4 separate regions of the Homo sapiens genome follow, and all the other regions are linked to region 2. The links come from fine-mapping of genetic effects on gene expression. A gene starts in region 2. Each other region holds a variant in brackets. All regions are shown on one strand. Distances are from middle to middle. Region 1 overlaps COG5 (component of oligomeric golgi complex 5). Region 2 holds the start of COG5 (component of oligomeric golgi complex 5). Region 3 overlaps COG5 (component of oligomeric golgi complex 5). Region 4 overlaps COG5 (component of oligomeric golgi complex 5).

Evidence for each region.
Region 1: its variant is fine-mapped to the expression of COG5 in lymphoblastoid cells (TwinsUK, PIP 0.92).
Region 3: its variant is fine-mapped to the expression of COG5 in Th17 cells (Schmiedel 2018, PIP 0.95).
Region 4: its variant is fine-mapped to the expression of COG5 in left ventricle (GTEx, PIP 0.92).

The regions. Positions count from the first base shown.
Region 1 is chr7:107,440,287-107,445,440 of GRCh38, forward strand. The region is part of intron 6 of COG5 (component of oligomeric golgi complex 5); the gene reads right to left. Among named protein-coding and RNA genes, the nearest start is that of GPR22, 27 kb to the right of the region's middle. The variant TA/T (reference allele first, on the strand shown) is at 2,357.
Region 2 is chr7:107,561,868-107,567,021 of GRCh38, forward strand. COG5 (component of oligomeric golgi complex 5) reads right to left here and starts at 2,053. Exons shown (of 22, transcript NM_006348.5): 1 at 1,936-2,053. The coding sequence starts at 2,029. DUS4L-BCAP29 (DUS4L-BCAP29 readthrough) reads left to right here and starts at 2,104. Exons shown (of 13, transcript NR_163941.2): 1 at 2,104-2,342; 2 at 2,721-2,809. DUS4L (dihydrouridine synthase 4 like) reads left to right here and starts at 2,104. Exons shown (of 8, transcript NM_181581.3): 1 at 2,104-2,342; 2 at 2,721-2,809. RefSeq lists silencers at 1,932-2,142, 2,181-2,280 and enhancers at 1,981-2,100, 2,631-3,830.
Region 3 is chr7:107,431,076-107,436,229 of GRCh38, forward strand. The region is part of intron 6 of COG5 (component of oligomeric golgi complex 5); the gene reads right to left. Among named protein-coding and RNA genes, the nearest start is that of GPR22, 36 kb to the right of the region's middle. The variant G/C (reference allele first, on the strand shown) is at 2,995.
Region 4 is chr7:107,396,843-107,401,996 of GRCh38, forward strand. The region is part of intron 7 of COG5 (component of oligomeric golgi complex 5); the gene reads right to left. Among named protein-coding and RNA genes, the nearest start is that of GPR22, 71 kb to the right of the region's middle. The variant T/C (reference allele first, on the strand shown) is at 2,779.

The DNA.
Region 1 (5,154 bases), 120 kb before region 2:
TTTATTCTGGTCTTAATTCTCAACACCTCAGCAGAAATCAGTAAAATAACTACAACTTTCAGCAGCTATAGGATAGTTTAGTTTTGGTTGTTTTTCTTGGTTAAAAAAAAAAAGCTGAGAGGGATGTTGTAATATAATGAAAAATAAATATTTCATCTTTGTCCCAAATATTGTATCAGGTTCCTGGCACAGCCCCTAAAATCCTTGGAATCTCTGGACTAATAAGACGGTCTTTTGCATGCTAATAGAATGATGGTGGCCACTAGACAGCTTCAGGATGAAGGCTGGTCACCAGAAAGATCAATGCATGATTAGAGGATTGGAATTTTCAATCCCACCCCACACCAACTTCTGGGGAGGGAAAAGAGGCTGAAAACTGAGTCAATCACCAATGGCTAATGATTTAATCAATCATCGTTATGTAATGGAACCTCCATAAAAACCCCTAACCACAGGGTTCAGAGAAATTCTGAGTTGATGAATACATCAAGGTGCTGAGAGGTCAACCCATGGGAGAGGGAAGTGAAGTTTTGTGCCCCTTCCCCCATACTATGCTCTATATATCTTTTCTATTTGGCTGTTCCTGAGTTGTATCCTTTATTTTAAAACAACAACAACAAACAGTAATAATAAGTTAAGCACTTTTCTGAGCTCTGTGAGTTGTTCTAAAGAATTATCAATCCCAGGCCGGGCGTGGTGGCTCATGCCTGTAATCCCAGCACTTTGGGAGGCTGAGGTGGGTGGATCATGAGGTCAGGAGATCGAGACCATCCTGTCTAACACAGTGAAACCCCGTCTCTACTAAAAATACAAAAAAAATTAGCCGGGCATGGTGGCGGGAGCCTGTAATCCCAGCTACTCAGGAGGCTGAGGCAGGAGAATGGCTTGAACCCAGGGGGGCAAAGGTTGCAGTGAGCCGAGATCGCGCCACTGCACTCCAACCTGGGCAACAGAGTGAGACTCCGTCTCAAAAAAAAAAAAAAAAAAAAAAGAATTACCAATCCTGAGGAGGGAGTTGTGGGAAACCCCTTAATCTACAGCAGGTAGATGAGAAATACTACTGATAACCTGGGACTTATAACTGCCATCTGCAGTGGGAACAATCTTAGGGGATTGAGTCCTTAACTTGTCTCCATTCTTTGTTTTTGTCGTTTATGCCTTTTTAGCCCTTCACTGTCATTTTAGTGAACATAAAGGAGAGAGCAGAAATAAAGGTGTGCATTCAATCCAATGTTTGACCTGTAATCCAGAGCTTACATTTTAGTCAAACTAGAAGATTATTCCCCTGACTCCAAGTGTATGCACCTTCCCAATCTCCAAATAGCCCAATAAAATCTTATCTTTCAAAACTCAGTTCAAGTGCCAGCTCCACATAACATATTTTCTAACCTTCCAAATTGTAAATAACTTATCCATCTTCTGAATTTTCACAGCACATTACTTGTATCTCTTCTGGCATTTACTTAGACCATATGTGCTAAATTTTAATGACTAATGCTCAAAAATCTCCTCCACTGCTCAAAGTTATTCACTTCACTAAAAGAGTTTAAATTCTATCAATCAGGGATTTATTTAATAAGTCACATTTTAAAATAGAAATATTCTTCAAAATAATAAACCTATTGGTATGCATTAGTTTAGCAATGCTCTTTTCCTTCTAGCCCAAACTATGATCCATGAACTGAGCAAATATGTTATCTAAAAGGTAAGGAAAGAAATCTTACACAATTTCAAGAACCAAGCATCTGGTGATGTGGTTTGGCTCTGTGGCCCCACCCAAATCTCATATTGAATTGTCATCTTCAATGTTGGAGGAGGGGCCTGGTGGGAGGTGGCTGGATCATGTTGGCAGACATCCCCCCCTGTTCTTGTGATAGTCAGTGAGTTCTCAAGAGATTTGGCTGTTTAAAAGTGTGCAGCACTTTCCCCTTGGGCTTGCTCTCTTCCTTTTGCCAGCCATGTAAGACATGCTTGCTTCCCCTTTGCCTTCCACCATGATTATAAGTCTCCTGAGGCTTCCCTAGAAGCAGAAGAATGTACAGCCTGCAGAACCAGGAGCTAATTAAATCTCCTTATCAATTACCCATTCTCAGGGAGTTCTTTATATTAATAGTAATGTGAGAACAGACTAATACATCTGGCCTTGACAAAAGAGAAAGCTTGATATGGCTGTATGTGTCAGGAGTAACCCACAGGTTTTTTGTTGTTTTTTTTTTTTAAATACTTATGCACTAAAGGTAAACATCAGCCCAACAGTATGTCAACCATGTTCCCTCCCTACTTTCACATATATGCCTCTGGCTACATGTTACCTTCTGGAAATACAGTCTCATCTGAGGTTTAAATCAATTTCACC[TA/T]AAAAAAAAAAAAAAAAGTCTATACGAGAAACTTGTAGCATGTAATCTGTCACCAAGAGAGATAATTTAGGGTTGCAGACTCTTTGGGTAGATGGCAGACCCAATAATACGCTATAATAGATGTGTTTCAGAGAATACAAATACAAGATTTTAAAAGCTGGAAAAAGAAACACCAGAAAGAAAGAACAAAATTTAGAGATACAGTCTGGAATCTACTGTAATAAAATAGCTGACCTAGCAGTATAACTCTCCAGTTCCTTAATTTATACATCCTAATCTCTTTCCAAGCTTGAGAGGAGTCTATAATAATGTTTAAAAGATGCAACATCAAGGGTTTTCCCTTGCTGCAGGTCCATGAAAATAGGATGTTATATCTCTCAAATTGTATTACCTTTAAACTAAAATAAAATTACTTCAGAAAAGACAATTCACAGAAAAAGAGAAAATATTTGCAGAACCCAAATGTCTGTCAGCTGATGAAAAGAAAAACAAAAGGTGGTATATCCATACATGGTATATTATCTGGCAATTACAAAGAATGAAGAACTGACACATGCTACAATGTGAAAGAACCCTGAAAATATATACTAAGTGAAAGAGCCCGGCATAAAAGATCATATATTATATTATCCCATTTATATGAAATATCCACAATAGTCAAACCTGTGAAACAGAATATTTGTTCTAGAATATTAGTTGCCTAGGACTGCATGGTTTGGGGAGGAAAGGAGAGTGACTGTTAATAGGTATGAAGTGGTTTCGGGGAATAATAAAAATCTACTAAAATTAGTTTATGGCTACAATTGCACAACTCTCTGGATATACTAAAAGCCATTGAATTGCACAAGTTATAATGGGTGAATTACATGATATGTTAATTATATCTTAATAAAGCTGTCAAAAAATACCTCAGGCCAAAATAATATCTCTAATGTAATGAAGTATTATGATAGAGGAGAGACTTTAAATTATGCTGCTAATAAAAACTAAAAATGTAAATGACTTTGCTGACAGCCCAGAAATATTTTTTTTGTTAAAATCCTAGTCTTAATTTATGGTGGACTCAATCTCTTCCTCTATCAACATAGTTTAGAATTTTTCCTCATGTTTCTGTGCCATGAAGGACTTATGCCAACTGGCATACTTATGTTCCTATCCATTCCACTCACAGTCTCTCCTACAGCCAAATTGATATTATATATTTCATATATTCTCTACCGTCTTCTAGGTGAGCTATAAATGAGATCTCTAGTAAGAGACACAGAAAGCAGGGAAAGCACTGGACTGATTTGTTTGTAGGAATCTACAGATTCTGCACAAATTAAATATTTCAGATTCAGTTACCTTAACAAAAATGAATTAGACGCCTACCTCAAATAATCCTAATGGACTGACAGTTGAAAGACATAGACTTACACAGGAACAGTTCCATCAGAGTAAATATGTGTAGAAAACTGGGCACTTATCTCTCTGTTGTTTCTTAATCTTCAAAACGGGGATGATGAATTAACTGGTCTCTCTATGTCCCTCTCAGTTCTATAAGTCTCTATATTCTATATTATCCTCTAGTCTAGCTAATACTACCACAATCTCCTATCCTCAGTAAACTGGCTGGTTGCAGGATAGAACAGCAAATTAATCATATAATTTATTTTTACAATAGAGTCTAAATTATTCAGTATTATTTTTACAGAGTTTAAATTATTCAAGTCCATCTTATCATCGCTCAGAGCAATAATTAAAAGTAAAAAGTTAGCCATGAAAAGTTGCACAGGCCAAATGGTTCAGGATTTTATAAGCTGAAAGATACCTGCAGTTTTCTTACACTGTTTTCGCCACTCCAACCCTGCTTTTCAGAATTATACCTGTTCTTTCACCCCCTACTTTATTTAATGAAACTTGTTCTAATTCTTCAAACAATATGGTTTATTTTGAAACTTCATAGCACATTGTTAATATCTTTTTGAATACTGATCATATTAAAGTTATGTTTATACTTCTCTTAGTTTTACATATCCCAAATCATCAAATACTATATCATAAACTCTAAAGAGCAAGGACTATGCCTCTCCTGTAATAAAAGAATAGCGATTTTCACATAAGAAACACATCAAAATTGAATTGAAGTTGAGTAACACAACTCTTTTGGATGACCAAAAATACAATTTAAAAAAGCATCAGTCTTAAAGAGTACTTCTTTTTGGATTGTGACACACATACCCTCATAATTTCTTATAACTGAAACTAATAAGCAGAAATGTAGGGCAAGCGTAGTGGCTCATGCCTGTAATCCTAGCACTTTGGGAGGCCAAGGCGGGGGAACTGTTTGAACCCAGGAGTTTGAGACCACCCTGGGCAACATAGCAAAACCCTGTCTCTACAAAAAATACCAGTGGTGACAGGCACTGGTAGTCCCAGCAACTTGGAAAGCTGAGATAGGAGTATCTCAGGAGCTTCCAGGAGCCCAGGAGTTCCTGAGCCCAGGAGCTCGAAGCTGCAGTGAGCCGTGATTAGGCCACTGCACTCCAGCCTGGGCAACACAGCAAGACCCTGTCTCAAAAAAAAATGTTGTAGAAATGTAGCTAATAAATATTAGTGGAGTTACAAAAACACACTCTTCCTAGGTCTTTGTTAAATTTTTACTTAAAACCATACACATTTCTAAAGGTTTAAGTAAGAGAGAATAGCATAATTCCTCAAGATACAATATCCTCAACTAAAATATTCCTGAAAAGATTCTTCAACTAAACTATCTTGCATACCACCCATAAAATACTTAAGAATATTAAACTTTTCT
Region 2 (5,154 bases):
CAGGAGGCTGAGCCAGGAGAATGGCGTGAACCCCGGAGGCAGAGCTTGCAGTGAGCCGAGACTGCGCCACTGCACTCCAGCCTGGGCAACAGCGCGAGACTCCGTCTCAAAAAAAAAAAAGAAAGAAAGAAAGAAAGGAGCAGAGGCTCCACTTCCGTTGCAATTGAAAAGGCAAGGGAAAAAAGGTGCAACAGATGGTTATACGTTGAGGTTAAATTCATAGGTTTGATGGGCAAGAAATGGAGAAAGTTCACATCTGATGGATCCTCTTTTTCTCCCCAGGGAAGCTTAAAGTCATTTGTTGAGCTTGAAGCGAAAGGTTTGAAAAGGGTAAAGAAGATTTAAACAATCACTGTGGAGAATGGCAGAGAACCAAGGAGGAAAATACAGAAGGCAGAACTGAAGAGTATTTACCGTCCAAGAACTGATTACAATTCCTGAAATACATCCTACTGAAACATATATCCAATGTTCCACTGTTCACCTGGGGAAGTCCTGTCTACAGTTTAAAACGTCTCCACCTAGAAAGCCTTTTCTGACATTTCCTAACCAGTTTCCAACCCCCAGTTATCATTCTCCTCTGTATTAATGCTCTACTTTATATGCAATCCTACTGCTATCTTACATCACTATATTACAGCACCTACCTTTATAGTCTACAAGATTATTTCCTCTACTAGATGGTGAACTACTTGAGGGCAAAAATTGCACGTGTATCAGGAGCAACTGCAAATATATCAGGGTCTCTGCCTTGTATCTAAAGTTTAAATTCAGTTTAGCCAAGTTTTAGACAGAGACCCGGTCCTAGAGTTTCCAACATGAAATAGTTCAGAAAACATCATTGCTTTTGACAAAAGTACATAAATTATCATGAAAAGGCACGTAATTCAGGATGACAATAAAATATTTAACAGTCAGAGAAAATAAACAATAATTTGGAACTTTATTTCATTTATTACCCACTTCGGTCTTCAAATGTGTGCATGTGCTTCTAACTGCGATGATGAATTTAAAAAACATTCTGCACCTACTGTATGCAAGATACTGCTATTCACACTGTGGGATATTAAAAAAAGTTTGCAATACAGAAGAGATTAAAACAAGTATACAAATGATTTTAGTACAAGGTAGAATGCGATGGCCACTAGAGAAAAAATTAAGAACAGGTGAGAAGGGCTTTATTTTTATGCTTATAAATGTGAACTTTATTCTGAAGGATAAGAGATTCGGGACATGGTAACTGGATTGACACAACTGAATATGCTTTTCAAGTATATTATATCTAACTTTTCTTATTTTGGGCAACTTCTCTCCAAACTGACTAGCAATAAAATCTGACTGCTAGATTCTGTACAAATGGTTAATCCCAACCTGAACAAATGTCTCAAACCCTCCCCCACGTGTCACTGTAGATAACTGCCTCATAAAGGAGGAAAAAAAAAACCAGCCTGTAAGAGGGGTCACCTGTACAGTCCATTTGTTAAAGGAGTAAGCGTTTCCAGCTCTACTTTAAAACAAGGCCCTATTTCATTATGCGTCTGCCGTCTGTTCTAGAGCTTACACTTTTGAAGAGCTCGAACGCTACACCCCTTCGTCAAGAACTGCGGCAGCAGCCGGTGGCTGCCAACGCGGTCCACAGGGTTTGGGCTCCCGAAACTTCAGGGAAGCTGGAGGCATGGGGGGGGGGGGGGTCGAGTTGAAATGAGGAACACACAGAAACCAAGTGTCCCCAAGACTCCAGAAAAGAGGGAGCCAGTCCCAGAGTAAATAGGTTGGCTAGAACAGTACCCAAGCCAGGGGGCCGGGCGGAGGGGAGTGGTCACGTCCAGACTGGAAAACTTTCTGCAAAGCAACGGGTTGGGTCCACCTCGCTGTCCAGGTGCGGAGCAGCGCAGACCCCCAACCCCACGACCTGGTCAGACCCCGTCTCCTTACCGTCCTGCAGAAGTTCCCGGACTGTAGCTGCAGCCGCTCCAGAGCCTCGAGCTCCGAGGCCAGCTACAGCGACGCTGCCGCCGCCACCTTCCATGTTGGCAGGTGCCGGGTTGATGTCGTCAGCAGCAGAACGGCTCCGCCCAGGTGGTGACGCAGAATCCCGGCGCCGCCCGCCCACCCAGCCCATGGCTCCAGGCCCACCTGGCGAACTGACTCTCAGCCCGCGCCTGGGCTAAGCCTGGCTAGGAGCCGCGCAGGTACTCGAGCAGTGGGCGCCCAGGGTCCGAGTGCTCTGCGCCCAGCGCACCGAGGGAGCCAAGGCCGTCGGGCCGGCGCTTTCAGCTGTCTCTCGCAGCAGCTCAGGGCCGCGCCCCCTGGGCTGGCGTCGTGCCCTAGCCAAGGAGAAGGTGGGCACCGGAACGTGGCCGCAGCGCTTATCTGTGAAGCAAGTATTAAACCTCAGAACAGGGGCCGCGCGGCGTAAGGCAGGAGAGCAGAGCGGAGGTTTCAGGGAGCTTCGTTTGCCCTCCACACTCACAAGAGTCACGCGTTAGTTGCTACACAGCTTTATCTGTTCCACGCCTTGATTGGCACTCCTGGGGTAATAAAAGCCCGCAGGAAATGCTTGGGAAGAAAAGTTGCTGGGGATGAACAGTGAAGAGAATTAGGGAGAGTCGATGAAGAAGGAAGTCTGAACCATAAAAGGACCAATAAAACTCACTGTCTCTACCCTCCTTCCTTCCCATGAGACCTTTGACCTTTTGCCTTTTCTACTTCTTCCTCAGTTTCAGTCACGTGCCAGACTTTTTCTTAATTACAAACTGATAGATGGTCCACATCTCAACTAACAGTATTGACGCTGTAAGAGCATCAGGTTGGTTCCCATTGTATCTTCTTTACTAATACGTTCGCGTTTTTGACCTAGATTTCTTTCTTCTAAGATAAATACTGATAAATTAACAGGGTCAGGCAACCACAAGTATGCAAGACAGTCTTAAGCTTCTTCGCAAAAAGAAGCTGGAAGATGACTTTTTCATTTTGTACAGTAGGTATGTATCCAGGAAACCAATTTTATCCAGTTCCAGAGCTACGTGGTTTTCTACATTCTGTTTCAAAAAGGTGCTATTACTTATCCTGTGCTTATCGCTGTTCTAAGTATTTTATAACTCAATGCATTTCATACTCATAACACCTCAGGTAAGCAAGTCTTATGCTACACTGCATTATGCTCTCTTTGTCTCAGAGGATTTTCCCTAGTATGTAAGATCTTAGTCATGATGGGAATAGGGGTGATTCATTCATTACTTGTGAATTAGGAATTGTTTTTCCTTCCTTGGCTTTATTCCCCCCAGTGGAAGATTTTAGAAGAGTGAGTAATATTCATTCATACAGCGAAAGTTTTGACCCCTCTACTCTGCATGCTCTCATGAGTTTACAAACATAAGACTCAATCCATATTCTAAAAGGAGTTAATAGGTAAGGTAGGAACCCATTTAAACAAACAATTGTACCAGGTGCTTTGGAATCTTTGGATTTACTTATTCCAGTAATTCCAAGCTTAGCTGCACATTGAAATCACCTGAAGAGCTTTAATAAAAACACTGATGCCTGCATCCTGAGCCCAGACGTTTGGATTTAATTGGTCTAGGGTATGGCTTGGGCATGCTAATTCTTAAAAGCTCCTCGGGTCATTGTAGTGTACAACTAAGGTAGAAAGCTACTGATTGTTTTGTTTTGTTGAGTTGGGGTCTAGCTCTGTTACCCAGGCTGGAGTGCAGTGGCAGGATCGTGGCTCACTGCAGCCTCAACCTCCTGGGCTCAAGGGATCCTCCTGCCCAAGCTTCTGGAGTAGTTGGGATCACAGTCGCTTGCTACCACGCCCAGCTGATTTTTATAATTTTTTTAGAGATGGGGGTCTCACTATATTGCCCAAGCTGGTCTCAAACTCCTGGCCTTAAGCAAGCCTCCCACCTTGGCCTCCCAAAATGCTGAGTTTACAGGTGTGAGCCCAGTCCCCTGAAACCTACTGATTTATTCTTTCAGCAAATAAATATTGAGGCCTTCTGTATGCCATTTACTATGACTGCAGGAGTGGATAAAAATGAAGTAATTCTTGCTAAAATCACTAATGACCTTGTTGCCATTGCGCTTTATTTTTGCCTTACTTTGATGTTTAAGATACCTATCCCCTCCTTCCTTCATAATGGTCTCTCTCGTTTTCTGAGTATCACTCTTTAGGTTTATTCCTCCCAGCTCCAAAGTTCATCTTCAGTCTCTTTTGCTCTCCCCTTTTCCTCTGTTACTTAAATATTGGTGCTTCCAGCGGTTTCTTGCAAGATCCTGACATCCTTAAGTACCTTGGCTATTTTTAATTTCAACTCCTTGCCTAAAGGTTAAAGACTCTAAAGTTTGAGCAATTAGACCATTCTAAAGTTGGCCCATATCTGATTCTTTTTTTTGTTGTTGTTATTTTCTGCTTCATTTTTCCTTCATACATACCTGTTTCTAAGTTACTGAGGCCAAGGACTGGAATATGAAAAGTAGCCAACACTGTGAAATAGTAGGATTTTAAGTATAGCAAATGTAAAACATTTACAAACTCCATAATTTCATCACTCGTACCTGTACCTCTTGGGGTATAAAAGTGATTTACAATGCAATTGTAGAATTATAATTGAAATTTTCACTAGATAATATCACATTAAAATTTTTAAAAATAATTAACGTTTGTTTATCTTCTGATTCACAGACAGAACAGGATTCAAGAATTACAATAAAAGCACCAGCATATCTTTTGAAACACTGACTACTTAAGAGTTGCTCTATTAATGCCATTTAACTTTCCTGAATAAAACAAGATATTTCCAAATGCCAGTCGAGTATCATATATAAAATAATTCAAACCAAATTTCTTGGCTTACCAATCCCAACAAAGTAACATGTAAAAAATTTTTAAATAACATGAAAACTTACAACATGGTAAACTAGGGAAAAAAAAAAAATCTCGTTTTCTGCATCTTGTGTTTCCACAACTATCTTGGGTAGTTTTCCACATCTATTTATCTTACAAATAGAGGCAGCATTCTATAGTATCATATTGGATACTGTGAAAATAAGCTATTAATAAAAAAATTTCTGAGCCCACAAGCCTGATAAAAAATATATGTTGTTGGCAGTTGAAATTGTTAGAATGGAATTAATATAGTGAAAACATATTTT
Region 3 (5,154 bases), 130 kb before region 2:
CTCTGCTGACATTTTGATTTTAGTCCCTTAAAACTCATTTCACACTTCTAATCTCCAGATTTGTAAAAAAATAAATCTGTATTGTTTTAAGCCATCAAATTTGTGGTAATTTGTTACAGCATCCCTAATGAACTAATACACCCAATACATCCTAAGTGTGTTTGCACATAACAACAGAGTTTGATATAAATGTAGCAAAAATAAAAAAGAATGAAATTTGAAAATCTACAATTATGTCAAATAGTTTTATATCCTTTTATAAATAATTGATAAAACAGGCAGACAAAAAATCAGTAAAGATATCTATAGAGGGAGATAACACAAACATGGCAAAGGTTTTACAACTGGCAAATCTAGGTTATGGGTAAGGGGTGTTTATTTTACTATTCTTTCAACTTTTCTCTAATTTAAAACTTTTTAAAATAAAAAGATGGGGAAAATCACTGAAGTATAGAGAATATATGAAAGATAATCTATTTTTTATTTGGGGCATCATCAAACTCTATCATCTTACTATTAGATTTTATTATTTACTAGAAAAATCCTATTTGCCACATTGATTTTCTTTTTAATTTTTTTAGACAGGGTCTCGTTCTGTCACCCAGGCTGGATTGCAATGGCACAAACATAGCTCACTGTGGTCTCAACTTCCCAAGCTCAAGCCTCAGGATACTGAGGCTCAACTTCCTCTCACCTCAGCCTCCAACGTAGCTGGGACCACAGGCATGCACCACCACACCTAGCTAATTTTTTTATTTTTTGTAGAGACAATGTCTCACTTTGTTGCCTAGGCTGGTCTAGAACTCCTGAGTTCAAACAATCTGCCTGCCCTCAGCCTCCCAAAGTGCTAAGATTAAAGGTACGAACCTGCCCAATCAACAATGACTTTTAAATAAAGGTCAGACTGCAAATACAGAGCCTAAAGAACTGCTATTTTAAACAGGAAGTGTGTGTGTGTGTTTGTGTGTGTGTGCATGAACATTTTATTGTAAAAATATCATGAAAGAAGAGAGAATGATCCTTTGTACCCATTACTGAGTTTCAACAATTACCATCATTTTGCCATTCTTATTTTGACCATATCCTATCTCATGTGTTTGAATGCTTTGGCATAAGCATTAAATCTTAAGTACAAAAAGAATAATCAAAAAGAGTATGACAATAATGACCAAGTGAAAAGACCATAATGTTCTATAAAAATAACTGCTCTGTAGTAAACTAAAGTTGAAAAAGTAAACACAGAGAGGTCAGACAAAACATTGCTGGGTTAAAATAAAATTCAAACTGATAAAATATGCCAGGCTGCAAAATATTTTGGCAATTCAAGAGTAATTGATATACAAAAGAGAGGGAGTGGAAGTTAACAGGATAGTACCACCTAATCCTCTGAGGACATGAACTTAGGATACTGAAATAAGAACATGACATAAGTACAGACCACAGGAAAATACCATAATGCTTAAAAACTCAAATGCAATCGTTTCAGTGTAAGAATATCACTTAACCAAAAATTACCATTAATATCAAACTGGCCTTATAAGAAAAGCTGCCTCTACATGAAAATAAAGTCTTTTCTACTTAAAAAATTCTAACTAGGAAGAAAAATGGGGATTTCTGAAGTCATATTCTATTTATAGTACATATATTCTACCATGTACTATAAAAAGTCCAGGGATGCATCCATTTTCGCAAAAAAAATTCTACAAAAAATTTTCTATTTTTTTCTATTCATCATAGTACTGGAAGTCCTAGCCAGAACAATTAGGCAAGAAAAGAAATAAAAGGCATCCAAATTGGAAAGGAAGAAGTAAAATTATCTCTGTTCACAGATGACATAATCTTAGATATAGCAAACCTTATAGATTCCACACCAAAAAAAAACTGTAAAAATAAACGAATTTAGCGAAGTTGTAGGATACAAAATCAACACACAACAATCAGTTGCATTTCAGTACACTAACAGTGAACAATCCAAAGAGGAAATTAAGAAAATAATCCCATTTACAATTTTAGCATCAAAAAGAGTAAGACACTTAAGAATAAACTTAGAGAAAATAAAGAGGCAAAAGACATGTATTCTGAACACTACAAAGTATGGCTGAAAGAAATTAAAGACAACACAAATAAATGGAAGATATCCCATGATTTTGAATTGAAAGGCTTAATATTGTTAAGATGTCAATACTACCCAAATTGATCTACAGATTTAATGCAATCCCTATTGAAATCCCAACAGCATTTTGTGTGTGCATGCAGAAACAGAAAAACGCATCCTAAAATTCATATGGAATCTCAAGGGACCCCAAACAGCCAAAACAAAAGATGCAAGTTTCACACCTGCTGGCTTCAAAACATATTACAAAGCTACAATAATAAAAATTGTCTGGTACTGGCATAAAGACAGACATACAGATCAGTGGAATAGAGAGCCCAGATATAAACCTTTACGTGTAAGGTCAAATGATTTTTGACAATGGTGCCAACACAATTCAACAGGAAAAGGACAGTGTTTTCAACAAATGGTGGTGGGAAAACTGGATATCCATATGCCAAACAATAAAATGGTACCATTACCTTAGCTATACGCAAAATTTAACTCAAAATGGATCAAAGACCTAAACATAAGAGCTAAAGCTATAAAACTCTTAGAAGAAGCATAAAGGAAAAATTTCATGGCATTGAATCTGGCAATTTCTCACATATTGACACCAAATCACAGGCAAAAAAAGTTAAAAATAAACTGAACTACATCAAAACGTAAAATTTCCATGTAAATACCACAATTCACAGAGTGAAAAGGCAACCTACAGAATGGGAGAAAATATTTGCAAATAATATTTCTAATAAAGGGTTAGAATATATAAAGAAATCCTACAATTAAGAAACAAAAAAGCAAATAACCTGATTTTTAAATGGGCAAAGAATATAAATAGACATTTCTCTAAAGATGAGAGACAGGTGGCCAACAAGCACATGAAAAGATGTTCAACATCA[G/C]TAATCATTGGACAAATGCAAATCAAAATCACAATGAGATATCACCTCACACCAGTTAGAATGGCCACTATTAAAAAAATACACAAAACAGAAAATAACAACTGTTGGCAAGGATGTAGAAAAATTGGAACCTTTGTGCATTGTGTCTAGAAATGCAAAATGGTGCAGCTGTTACGGAAAACCATATAGACCTTCCTGGAAAAAACTTAAAATTAGAATCACCATATGATACAATAATCCCATTTTGGGGCATACACCCAAAAAAATGGAAAACAAGATCTTAAAGGAATATCTGCATATCCATGTTCACTGCAGCTATTATTCAAAATAGCCAAGAGGTAAAAAGCAACCCAAAAGTCCACTGGCAGAGATAAATGCATAAAGAAAATGTGGTATATACACTGGGTACAGTGTGTACACTGCTTGGACGATGAGTGCACCAAAATCTCAGAAATCACCACTGAAGAACTTATTTGTGTAAGCAAACATCACCTGCTCCCAAAAACCTATTGAAATAAAAAATAAATTAAGAGATAAAATTTTAAAAAAAGATAAAAAGAAAAAGAAAATGTGGCATTATAAACCCAATAGGATATTAGCCTTAAAAATGAACAAAATTGGCTGGGCGCGGTGGCTCACGCCTGTAATCCCAGCACTTTGGGAGGCCAAGGTGGGCGGATCACTAGGTCAGGAGATCAAGACCATCCTGGCTAACACAGTGAAACCCTGTCTCTACTAAAAATACAAAAAATTAGTTGGATGTGGTGGCAAATGCCTGTAGTCCCAGCTACTTGGTAGGCTGAGGGAGGAGAATCGCTTGAACCTGGGAGGCGGAGATTGCAGTGAGCTGAGATCATGCCACTGCACTCCAACCTGGACGACAGAGCGAGACTCCGTCTTAAAAAAAAAAAAAAAGAACAAAATCCTGTCACATATTGCAACACAGATTATGAGGACATTATGCAAAATGAAATAAGTCAGTCACAAATAGACAAACACTGTCTGATTCTACTTTTATGGGTTATCTAAAGTAGTCAAACTCATAGAAACAGAAAGTAGAATGGTGGTTGCCAGCAGGTGGGGGAGAGGAAAATTAAGAGCTGTTAAATAGGTATAGAATTTCCATTTTACAAGGGGAAAAAATTCTGGGAATCTGTTCTACAACAATATAAACATAGTACTAAACTGTGCAGTTAAAAATGACTAAGATGGGAAATTACATGGTATTTGTTTTTTCCACAATTAAAAAAGAAAAACAGAAGATAACAATTGTTGAGGAGTATATAGAAAAACTGAAATCTGGCCAGGCGCGGTGGCTCACACCTGTAATCCCAGCACTTTGGGAGGCCAAGGTAGGTGGATCACTTGAGGTCAGGAATTTGAGACCAGCCTGACCAACATGGTGAAACCTCGTTTCTACTAAAAATACAAAAATTAGCTGGGTGTGGTGGCAGGCACCTGCAATCCTAGCTATTTGGGAGGCTGAGGCACGAGAATTGCTTGAACCCAGGAGGCAAGGGTTGCAGTGAGCCAAGATCGTGCCACTGTACTCCAGCCTGGGCGACAGACACTTTGTCCCAGAAAAAAAAAGAAAAAAGAAAAACTGAAATCCTCATATATCACTGGCAGACATGTAAAATGATGCAGTTTCTGTGGAAAATGGTATGGTTGTTTCTCAAAAGACTAAACATAGAATTACCATATGGTCCACCAATTCTACTTCTATATATACCAAAAGATATTTAACAGGGATTTGAATAGGTATTTGTAAGCCCATATTCATAGCAGCAATATTCACAATAGCCATGAGGTGGAAGCAATTCAAATGTACATTGATGAATGAAGGATAAAGAAAATGTGGTATACATACACAATGGAATACTATTCTGCCATAAAAAAGAATGAAATCACATCATTCGTGGCAACATGGATGAACTTGGAGGATATGATATTAAGTGAAATATGCACAGAAAGAGAAATACCACATGTTCTCACTCATATGTGGGAGCTAATTAAGTGGATCTCATAGAGGTAGAGAATAGACTGGTGATAACCAGACAGAAGTTGGGAAGGATGGGGAGAGGGAAGGATGAAGACAGGTTGGTTATTCACAGTAGCCAAGACACTGAAGCAACTTAAATGTCCATGGACAGATGAATA
Region 4 (5,154 bases), 170 kb before region 2:
TGTTTATTCAACAATAAAATGAATTTTATAGGAAAATGGAATAATGACAAATTAATGTGGCAAGCCATAAAAACATAGCTTATTTTTAAATATAATAAAATGTAAAGTCATTCTGTGCTTTACCAAAGATATTTATGGCAAGCATTATGTATTAGCTATTGCCCAAAACTACTTTCTTCTTTTTTCTTGATAAAAACCTAATTTTCTCAGGCAATGGCTGATAAGTAGCCTGAGCCGATGTTGACAATTCTGTTCCTCTTTGCCAGACACTTGTTTTCACAGTCTTCTTGATAGCTAGGCTGGGCATGTGACTCAAATCTGGCCAGTGAGACATAAGGACATGTTGGCTTAGGCAATTTGGGGAAGGATATTATAACAACACCTTTTGACTCACAACTGGCTCTGCCCCACCTCTGTACCTTGAACACAGACATAATGGCTACCGGCATGACAGCTATCTTGTGACCATGATGGGACAAGCAAAAGCACACTAAGGATGATGGAATGGAAAAAAGAAAGGCCTGAATCCTTGTTGAATAGTTGAAACAATGTTAGCACCACCTACACCCAGTCAAATCTGTTGGTGTAAGCCACTATTAATCTAGCTTGCTGTTAACAGTTCATACAGCCTCATCCAGCACCATCATTGATTGAAAGACAATATATAAAAAAATACATGGGCCCATAACAATAATTTTTAACAGATGAAAAACAAAAGAATAAAATCACATCTCATCTGCTACCTTTGGTGGTGACTACTGTATCAACTCATTACTCTATAAAGTGGTAATGACAGTGAAATTTCTAAGTATTTATATATCATTTTCAAAAGAAACTGCAGTTCAGGGTAACCAAATATGCACAGTTGATGAGTTAAAGTTCTTTACAAAATAATCGCAGCTAGTAAACACAAGGAATAACAAAAATAGAAAATCACACTTTCATAATCCCTAAGTAATTTAAGAAAAAGATTTAGGCAGAAATCGTTGATATTAAAACCATTATGGGAAAGACTGACAGGAAATTAAATAACCTCAAAACGCAAAGGTATCCACAAATTACAATGAAGGATTAAATGAAAGAAAAAAAAAGGTCTTTTTCAACAAAAGGTGCTCAAAAAACTGACTTTCTCTATGGAAAAAAAATAATTTTGCACTGTACATAAAAATTAAAATGTAAAATTCTAAAACCTCTAAAAGAAAACATGAGACAAAAACTTTGTAACCTTAGGTAGGCAAAAATTTCTTTCATAATATACAAAAGAAAACATGGATAAACTAGACTTTATCAAAACAAAAAATTTTGCTTTTCAAAAAGACAATATCAAGGGAGGAAAAGACAGCATTATTCATAATAAACAAAAGCAGTCTACCAACTTATCAAGACACAAGCAAAATGTATATATCCATAGAACTGAATATTATTCATCAATGAAAAACAATGGACTATTTATACATACAATCAGGAGTTCCCAACGCCCCTGGGCTGCTGACCAGTAAGAGTCGGTGGCTGTTAGGAACTGGGCCACACAGCAGGAGGTGAGCGGCAGGGCAGTGAGCATTATAACCTGAGCTCTGCCTCCTGTCAGATCAGCAGCAGCGTTCGATTCTCATAGGAGTGCGAACCCTATTGCTAACTGCACACGCGAGGGACATAGGTTGTGTGCTCCTTATGAGAATCTAATGCTGATGATCTGAGGCGAACAGTTCATCCCAAAACCACCACCTCTGCCCCCACATGTGTGGAAAAACTGTCTTCCATGAAACCAGTCCCTGGTGTCAAAAAGGCTGGGGATCACTGCATACAACAAAATGGATCATTCTAAATAAAAGATTGTGCTAAGTGAAGAAGCTAGATACACAAGATTACCTGTCATATGACTGTATTTATATAAAATTTTCAGAAAAAAACTAAGAAGACAGAAATTATAATCTATCAAAATTAGTAATTGCCTGGGTTTGGGGGTAGGAGGAGGAACTGACTACAAACAAGCATGAAGGAACTTTTGTATGATGATGGCAATATTCCAAAACTGGTTATGAGATGGTTGCACATCTGTATAAATTTACTAAAACTTGGCTGGGCAAGGTGGCTCACACCTGTAATCCCAGCACTTTGGGAGGCCGAAGCAGGGAGATCACCTGAGGTCAGGAGTTCAAGACCAACCCTGCCAACATAGTAAAACCACGTCTCTACTAAAAATATAAAAATTAGCTAGGTGTGGTGGCATGTGCCTGTAGCCCCAGCTACTCGGAAGTCTGAGGCAGGAAAATTGCTTGATTCCAGGAGATGGAGGTTGCAGTGAGTCGAGATCGTGCCACTGCATTCCAACCTGGGTGACAGAGCGAGACTCTGTCTGAAAAAAAAAGTTAAAATAAATAAATAAGTTTACTAAAACTCATCAAACTATACATTAAAAGTGCATGATAACAGAAAAAAAGGAAAGACACAGAAGAAAATATTTATGATATGGTTTGGCAGTGACCCCACCCAAATCTCATCTTGAATTGTAATCCTCATACTCCCCATGTGTAGAGGGAGGAACCTGGTGGGAGGTGATTGGATCATGGGGGTGGTTTTCCCACTTGCTGTTCTCATGATAGTGAGTGAGTTTTCACCAGACTTGATGGTTTTATAATGGGCTCTTTCCCCTTAGCTCCACACACACTCCTCTCTCTTGCCTGCCACCATGTAAGACATGCCTCATCCCCTTCTGCCATGATTATACGTTTCCTGAGGCCTCCCCAGTTCTGCGGAAATATGAGTCAATTAAACCTC[T/C]TTTCTTTATAAATTACCCAGTCGTGGGTACGTCTTTATAGCAGTGTGAAAACCGACTAATTCAATTTACAATGCAAAATTTGATAGAAGACTTACATCCAGAATGTAATAAAAATTCTTACAACTCAGTAATGAGAAGACAACAAACCCTTCAAAAATTGAACAAAAACCTTCACTATTAAGCAGTTAAAAAGTTTGTCACATCAGTAGTTATTAAGAAAATGCACATAAAAAGTACGAGAACCTCCTACACACCCACTAAAATGGCTAAAATTAAAAAGACTGCTAACATCAAATGTTGGCAACAATCTGGAGGAACCAGAACCCTCAACTACGGATGTGGAAATGTAAACTAATAGAACCACTTCAGAAAACTGGTATTCTCTTTAAAAAGTAAACATAATAGTCTTTGCAAAAATCTAACCTTTTTTTTTTGCCTTAGGTATTAACCTAACAAATGAAAATATAAGCTGAAACTAAGACTTGTACTTGAGTGTTAATGCAGCTTTATTTACAATAGTCTTAAAGTAGAAATAACCTAAATGCTCATCAATAGGTGAACGTATAAAGATACTTCCATAAGTAATGACATAATAAAAGAGGAACAAATTATCAATGCACATAACATGCATGAATCTCAAAATAATTATGTTGAATGTATAAAGCCAGATAAGAGGAAGAGCACACTGTATAACTCTAATTATGTAAAACCATGGAAATGCAAATTAATCTATAAAGACAAAAAGTTGCTGCCTGTAATTTTTCTGAATTACAAAATAAAATTCTAGTATTTACTACTATAATAACACTCCAGCACAAGAGTGTTTAAATTAAGTAAAATCATATAGATTTATACAAGTACAAACACAATTTTGAGAAATTTTTGAGAAGCAGAAAGCAATTACACATAGACTAGAGTGACTACCAAATTTTAATCAAAGAGCAGTAACAGAATTCTATATGAAATACAATAAATTTAGTCCGTTATTGAAAAATTATTCACATGAATAACTGAAATGAAATGCATTCAGTGAACTGGAAAACTATGGGAAGTAATAACACCAAAATACCCTAAGTCTAAAAGCAGACAGTTAATTAGATGTAAGTCCACACTGCAAGATGGCAATAAAATAAAATAATAAAGTAGCCAATGTTATTGTGGATTGTTCACAACAAGAGAATTTGTCAAAGAATATGAAAATAACATGACTGCATATAGAAACTAGAATAAAAGTCATACTTTACATTTGGTGTAAAACAAAAGCATACAGAAATGCCGTATGGTAATTGACACATCGTAAAAGAGGAAAGGGTAGACAGAGAGAAAAAGAGTAGGAGAAAAGAAAAGATGAAAGTATCTGCCAAGAAAATCAATTATTTAAAGCAGGGATCAGCATATTTTTTCTTTAAAGTGCAATACAGCAAATAGTTTAGGCTTTGCACACTACGTATGCTGTTTGTTTTTGCTTTTTTCCAACCATTTAAAAATATAAAAATAATTCTTAGCACTGCGGCAACATAAAAAAACAGGCCACGGGCTGTAGTTTACCAACCCATGATTTTGGGTGTTATGTAAGAGTTCAAATTAATTTCCATTCAAATTTAAGGATAAAATAAAAAGGACATGTCACACAACTAACATTAAGCTTTAGAGAAAAAAAATTTAAATGATTAGTTTTAAAATATCCTTTTAAATTATAAAAGCTATGACGGTACATATTATGTAACTATTATTAATAATGATATACAATGTTATCTCTAAAAAGAAATTGCCGAAGAGTAACTTTTAAAATTATTATTTATACATGTCATAAAGTTTATTTAATTGAATACCAATGTACTCCACATCAGGTCTCCATTAAATCTAATGAAAGCTATAGTGATGGGAACAAACAGACAAATATATGGTGAAACAACAGCAAATTATCATTTGAAGGTCATAAAGGAAATACGCGAGCTCTTACTACATTCATTCTTTCAAGTTGTTTACTGTGTGCCAAGGAACAAGTTTTGAACAAGAGGGGAAAAATTACTGAAACTCTAGTTAGTGGTAAAAACAATACTGGGACCAAATATACAAAGGAGTTTACACAGGCCCAAATGATGGGCTCTGTTGTATAATCCATGAGACAAGTCAGAAAAACAGCTAAATATATAAAAGCTGTACCTTTTAAAGCTAGGCAAATGGTGTTTGTTGGGTCATAAGGGAAGGAAAACATCCCAAAACAATTGCTTGCTGCCTGCAGAACTACTATCGCAAACTACAAAAGGAATCACTGTGTTCAACTTTAAGAGGACCTTCTTTTTGAAGCTTAAGATAATGCTTAACTTCCATAGAGCTCACTGAACACAATGCATTTGAACTAGTATCCTTGC